Linked DNA regions of Homo sapiens. The protein of the gene in region 1 purifies or fractionates together with the protein of each later gene. This does not show direct contact. Each region holds a gene or a part of one and is shown in the gene's direction. Other genes may lie near its edges.

The links. Proteins that work in one complex are often made in the same cells at the same time.
Region 2: the proteins of SLC35B3 (region 1) and UBAC2 purify together in Homo sapiens (affinity purification with mass spectrometry; one large-scale study listed by BioGRID and IntAct). This does not show direct contact.

Annotation. Positions count from the first base shown.
Region 1 is NC_000006.12:8,418,546-8,422,045, reverse strand, and holds part of SLC35B3 (adenosine 3'-phospho 5'-phosphosulfate transporter 2), read left to right. Parts: intron 1-1,217; coding exon 1,218-1,325; intron 1,326-2,368; coding exon 2,369-2,466; intron 2,467-3,160; exon of another isoform or gene 3,161-3,302; intron 3,303-3,500. UniProt on the Homo sapiens protein: Probably functions as a 3'-phosphoadenylyl sulfate:adenosine 3',5'-bisphosphate antiporter at the Golgi membranes.
Region 2 is NC_000013.11:99,378,854-99,382,353, forward strand, and holds part of UBAC2 (ubiquitin-associated domain-containing protein 2 isoform 1 precursor), read left to right. Parts: intron 1-3,500. UniProt on the Homo sapiens protein: Restricts trafficking of FAF2 from the endoplasmic reticulum to lipid droplets.

The DNA of each region.
Region 1 (3,500 bases):
GCGACAGAGCGAGACTCCATCTCAAAACAAACAAACAAACAAACAAACAAACACTTATATGCCTTAGTTTCTGAAGTCAGTAATTTGGACTTAAGAAAAAGAAAAGATAATACTTTGTTTTTATTATTTTATTTTGGAATCTACCACATTTCCAGCAATACTATATTTACGTATTAAAGGTCTAGTTCAAAAGTACGTGGAAAGGTCCCTTTTTTCAGTTCCTTCATTCTTCTACTCTCCAGGGGTCTACCCTTCACTTCCATTGTGCATGGGCAGTTCTCATATTGAAGTAAAGTTTAATCTGAGCAGAACTGCGTTTTTACCAACCTGCTGGCTTTAGTGATGTTTAGAGCCCCAGCTAAGTGACAAGTTTTGTGGAAATACGAGTAAAAGAGGAGGCAGTGATAGCAACAAACAGTGGAAGTAGCTTCTGTTGTTCACATTAATTGTCACGAGGAATATTCGTGTTTTAATAGTCGGGTGTTTCTGTATCACTGAAGTTCTTATACAGCCTGATATCATTTATGCATTAGATACCATCCCAGAATAAGCCTTTAAAAATGAAAGTGTTGTCAACTACTTCACGTATCATTTCAGGATAACTTCATATAGGAAAAAATAATTGACCTCAATCCCTATTAAAAATCACATTTATTGTCCCAACTGACTAGGCATATATAATATTGTCGTTATAAACCTTACAAAAAAGTCATACTACATTTTATTTTTAAAATAATGATATATGAAAATAATTTAATTTTCACCTGCCTGGAAGTTATCACATTATGATATTTGCAAACTTAAACAGTTATGTAACCAGACTCATTAATCTGGTTACTTCGTAAATTTACAAACTACGAGAAAATTCATAACCTTTTATTATGCACAAAGTAAAACAGGAACTAAATTTCCAGGAAATTTTTTAAATGTTTGTGGATGTGCATTATTCTTGCTGTCAGTTTTTGCCAAAGTATGTATTTTAGTGTCACTATTATACCAGATAAAGTAGCTCTCGTTTCTAACTTACAGGGACATATTGCTGCCCATTGGTAGTTTTCAGAAGCCCTCTTGTGACTGTCTTCTGCCTTGACCTAAGTGTTCACGTTTTTGGCATTGGATATAAAAAAACAAATCCATGTTCTACTTAACACATAGAGCAAATATAAAGCTGGGTGGGTATTTGCATAATGAAGTGGACTTACGTTTGTTTTATACAGGAAAGCGTTATAATGTTGCAGATGTGTCTGCTGCCATATGTATGAGCCTTGGCCTGATATGGTTTACCCTCGCTGACAGCACAACTGCACCAAATTTCAACCTGACGGGTAAGTAATTTATTTATATTCCTAGCTTTTATAGGCTTTTTAGTTTAGAATACGAATTTCGAATATTTTGTAAGCATTTTAAATGATAGTGTGACAGCTGCAATTTTCATATCTAACATAAAGCTTTTGGACTTTCCATATAAGATGTAGTGAAAATATCACAGCTCTGTAGATAAAACAATTTGTTTGTTTTTTAGTGTGCATGCATTTTGATGCTTCTCAGGAATGAAGTGTTGACTCAGATTTGTTTATGTCAGTTGTACCTTTATTATAATTATGTCGTAACTCAGTATTACGTTATTCAAAAATGAATATGAACAAATAATTGTTTTTGTGAAAACTGAGTTAACTGACACAACTTGATTGACAAGCAATAAAATCACTATTGAATGAGGTGTGGGTAAAACCACTGTGAATATTGGAGGGAAGCTCATAAACATATGAAAGGATTCTGTACTCTGCAGGGCACTTTTAAACAAAAACACCTTGGAAATCATGGAAAATGTGTGCTGAGTGTGTTTATACAAAGGAGAAAATATGGAATTCTATTCAGGACCCATGCTCAAAGAAAAAGGCCCTGACAGCAGCGTGCCTGTTTATGTGATTTAAATTAAACATTTTAGTAATAATAGGGTTTTTCAAAAATGACTTTTCTCTTCATCTGTTTTTTTTTTTTTTAATTAACTGAATAGCCACCAATCCCAATAGATAGATATCCTAAGAGTTTCTTCTACACTTTCAGAACTAGTGGAACTATTAGACTAGTAGAATATTTATGGAACTGTTATTTAATACGCTATTGAAATGTGAAATGTGATATGTACAGAACTAACTCAGTTTATTAGTATATCTTTTTTAATATCATCACATATGTACTTGTTACAACCGATTGTGAATAAGAATATTCTGGATTACCGAACAAATGTAGTTGAAGATCTGCTTTTGTTTTTTAGACCAATGAAATTTCTGATAAAGCTTGATTATAGTTCATATGTTTAAATAAGGAGGGTTTTTTTGTTTGTTTTTTTAATACCTTCTTGAAGGTGTGGTGCTTATTTCCCTGGCACTATGTGCAGATGCCGTCATTGGAAATGTTCAAGAGAAAGCTATGAAACTTCATAATGCTTCTAATTCTGAAATGGTAAATACTCTAGTGTTTTTTCTTCAAATTAGACAGATTTAAAAAATGGTGATACACGTAATTTGATGAAATAATTATTATAACTAGCATTGCATTTTTAAACTCATTTTTACAAAAGTAATACATTCAAACATTATAGGAAGGTAAAAACTAAAACTACAACTAGCAGTGCTAACCGCTTGTTGCATAGTTGACAAATTTTTTCCTCATTGATTTAGTTTTTTATGTATTAAAATAAAATCTTTTGTTATATCCTTTCTCTCATCTCTTTCTAGTGGGTAGTATTTTTCCATGTAGAAGTTTGTAATTTTTATATGGCCCAATTTGTCTTTTCCTTGCTGGCTTCTGGCTAAGTATCATGGTTGAAAAGAGCTTTCCTAACCCTGAGATTTAGAACATTTCATCCCTGTTGCCTACTAGTTTTGTGATTTCCTTTTTTATTAAGCCCTTGATCCAATCTAAAACTTTTTTAAAAGAACTTTTCTTTCAAATGACTACCATTTTTTCTAATATCATTTATTGAATAATCCACTTTCAGCTCATTTTAAATGCCCTCTTTATCATATCACACTCTTGTGTGGCATTCAGAATTGTATTTGAATTTATTTTTGCAATAGTACATATAATGACAGCAGCTTTATCAGACATTTATTATCTGTTAGGACTAGCTACCATTGTTCCTTTTCTTTTGCAGAATATTACTACCAGTAGTTATTCTGGGGTGTTTATATTCCCAAATAAACTAAAAATCCCATTGGTATTGTGATTGGTATGGCATTGAATTATAAATTAATTTAGGGAGAATGGCATCTTGATTATTTCAGTCCAAGAATAAGGTATGACTTTTCTTTTACTCAAGTGGTCTTTTTTTCAATGTCCATTAGAGTTTAAAGTTTTCTTCATGTAAATCCAGCACATTTCTTATTAAAGGTATTGTTAATAATAACTTATTAAAGTTATTTCATCTTTTTGTGGTTATTGCAAATAATATCTTTCTGTATCTCTTGTAACTGTTTTTTTTTTTTGCAAGTAGT
Region 2 (3,500 bases), on another chromosome or scaffold:
TATATTTATCCTTCATTGATCTAAGAATACCTTGGCCACATGGCTGAATTAATGGAGTCACATTTGGGGAAAAGTACATGGCATAAACATGATTTTTGATGAGATGTCAGCTGGAGGATGAACAGAAAAGTTGTCAAGGTATAACAAAATATTTCAGTCATCATCCAGCCCAGCTTCCCTGCAGTGAGCACAAGCCACAGGTCCAAAATGTTTGTGAGACCAATCAGAAAAGATATCCCTAGTTAAACATGCCTTTTTGTTAGCATAATAATGGTCTGGTAAGAAATTCGCTGCTTGAAAACAGCAAGGACACAAACTTTTGCCTGTCATGCAAGTTTACGCTTATGCATGCCTGCTGCATTAGCACATCCCAGCAAAGTTGTTCTGCCCTTGATGTCCTCAGTTCCTGGAGGGGCTGTCTCATTAGCTGTAGTTGTGTCTTTCTGGAGCAATAAAACCAAAACAGTGATGTTCCATCAGCATTATAGACTTGTTCTGGCATCAGATTTTTGTCAGCAATGACCTTGGCAAACTCACCAATGAATTTCTTTGCTGCTTCATGATGCTTTGTCACCACATTAAAAAATTTGGTTTCATGTTTTTTCTTAAATTTCTGCAGCCAACATGTTGAATATTCATAGTTCCTTTTCATTTTCAGTTCCTCATCCTGATAGATCCTTGCTTGTTTCCTGACCCACATAGCATTAAGTGGCAGGTGTTCACTGCAACACCAAGGGATCCATCCTCGGTACATGATCAGGATCTTCATTTTTAGCTTTATGCAGTGTTTCTCTATTTTTCATTAATTTCTGTTTATCACTTTTAGCACAGAACTTCAACAGTTTATCCTTCTGTTTCTTCAGATCCTATATGGTGGTCACTCCAACACCATACTCTCCTGTAAGACGTTTCACACTTACACTGCTCTCCACTTTCTCCAACAGCTTGACTTTCTGTGCTATAGATAAACATAAATCTTTTTCTTATCACTGTTACCCAGAGGGTATCTGCACACCTTTTAGATATTTTAACAACATTTTTATAACACAGAGCAGAAAGTAAGCAAAAAAGCACAGTGAGTGACGCACGTGGGTTTTGGCCCCATGCAGGTCATTGTGGGGAACCTGCCCACTGGCATGTGCTTGCGTGGGGGAGTCGGGGCATGTGCAGAAAAGGCATGTCACAGCTGAAGGAGGGTGAGAGGGTCTCTTTTCCCTTGGAGACACTGAATAAACTACATGTTGTGGCCTGCATTTTGACTGCAGCCCATCACATGAGGTCAGGTGTGGAACTTGCCATTTGTACTGCCATGTTGGTACTCAAAAAGTTTCAAATTCTGGAGCATTTTCGATTTTGAATTTTCAGATTAGGAATGCTTAACGTGTGTTTTGCTTACCTGACTGCACGTCTGCGCAGGCCTCAATTTCGTCTTTCTGTAATTTGAGCACAGGAGTTGATGCTTCACATGCCGAGTAAGCTTTCCCAGGAGAGACCGTAATGAGATGTGTGGGGACTGGGCGTGCTGGGCTTCTCTGAGCAGAGGAATAGTGAGAGCCACAGCAGTAATTGTTAGTGTCCACCAAAGAGCCCTACAGACAACTGTTCTCTGTGCTGCTAGTTTTTGCTCCAGTTCTTACTGTCTATATGGTGAACCTCTGAAACTACATAAAGAAAGGACAGCAGGGGCCACTTGGCTAACTTGCACGGCTGTGAGCACTGCACTGCACCCCTCCACTGGGGAGTATTGGGTAAGCACCCATCGGAACACCTATCCCCTGACCCTTCTCGTCCTTGCTGGCTGGTTGTCATCGCATACCCAAGCCCAAGCATGCAGTTTCAGTTTGCCATGGATGTTTAGTTTTGGACACTATGGGAAACCTTCAGGTGCCCTTTCTTAGTGTAATTGTTTATTCTTTTTAAAGAACTGTGCTAACATTATTGCTACTTAGCAATAGTTTTTAATCTGGTGAAAATAACAGGTCAGTGGGCAGTGAAAGTTCTCCTGTCACACTTGTCTTCTCACCCATAAAAATCACTTAAAGCTCTGAAGCCAGCTTTGGCTAAAGGGGCATGATCTGCCCCGCAGAGGATGAAGAGCGAGCCCGCTGCAAGCTGTGACAGCAGACGCTCTCTTCTGCCAAGACCTGTGAAAAGCCAGTCTTAGTTGTCAAAACCAGCACCGCGGCACATGTCGTTCATGTCTGAGAGAATGAACTCAGAAGGAAGTCTCGTGTACATAGAAAGCTTTCGTTCTTACTCTAGGATGTCACCTACGTGACTTACAACCCAGCCCAGCCATCCCAGACCTAAGGGGTTCTTCCCTCTCCAGGGCAGGGCCTGCATGCAGTCCATGCTGCTGCCCTGTGTTGGTGACCTGTGTGTAGCCAGCCCATTATCAGCATCCTGTGGATTCCAAACCAAATGTATCATCAGTGGAGGGAGAGCTCAAGTGCCAGGTGGAGCTGTGGCCTAAAGTCACACTTCATCACTCCAGATTATGAATCGTCATTTGCCAGATCTCCAAATTGCTGAGTGTGGACAGCAAATGGATTCGTTTGTGCTGGCTGGGTGCAAAGAAGCAGCCAGTCCTCAGCTGCACTTGAAGTACTACAGGTAGTAGTAAAGGTAGCTTTTCCAAGCCGTTTAAATAAACGTCATTAAGAGTGGCCAAGTTGTTTGGGGGCCATGGCATCATGGTGGTGGATAGTAGGTGGAAGGAAGGCAGGCCAGCTCCCGTTTGGCCTGAGTTATCTCCACCAATGACAATGGTCCTTAACTGGAGGGAACATCATACAGGTTATTTCCACCCAAGATTGGAAAGACCACCTTGATCAGAGAGAGTTTTCCTTCCACATGACACATATCCAGCCTGAGTCCTCCAGCCCCTCTCCCTGCACAACCTGATGGAGGCTTGAGAAAGCACAGGGAGGAACACTTAGCTTGAAAATGTTCCTAAGGAAAAGGAAAGTGTGAATTCTGAGAACCAAGTGGCAGAATTGAAGTTTCACATCTGGCAAAAGCTTAAACAGATTATTATCAAATAGATGGTTTGTGAACGTTGAAAAGACAGCTGTGGTCTAGGACACCAAACCAATCCTGTTGGCAAGAGATCACCAAGACCTTTGACAACATCTCATCAGCTTATGAGAGATGTTGGTGACATGCAGAATGGATAATGATAGTGCAATGAAGTGGGTTTGAAACTGATTAAAAATGTTGATTAACCCCTTGAACACAGAGTTCTGGGCTCTTTGACCTGACGTGTTTGACATTTTCATCAATAATAACTTGAACAAAGTTGTAGAGGTTTACTAATCAAATTTAGGCATGATACAAGTTTGAGGGAGATGATTAACAGTAGATAACAAAATGAGAATTGAAAATAATTCATTTTGGTTGACTGGAAAATGATCAGATGGAATTTAACAGAGATATGTAGAGTCCTAGACTTAAAAGGTCAGGTAGGATTTGAGAGACCTGACTTGACAGCATTTTATGTG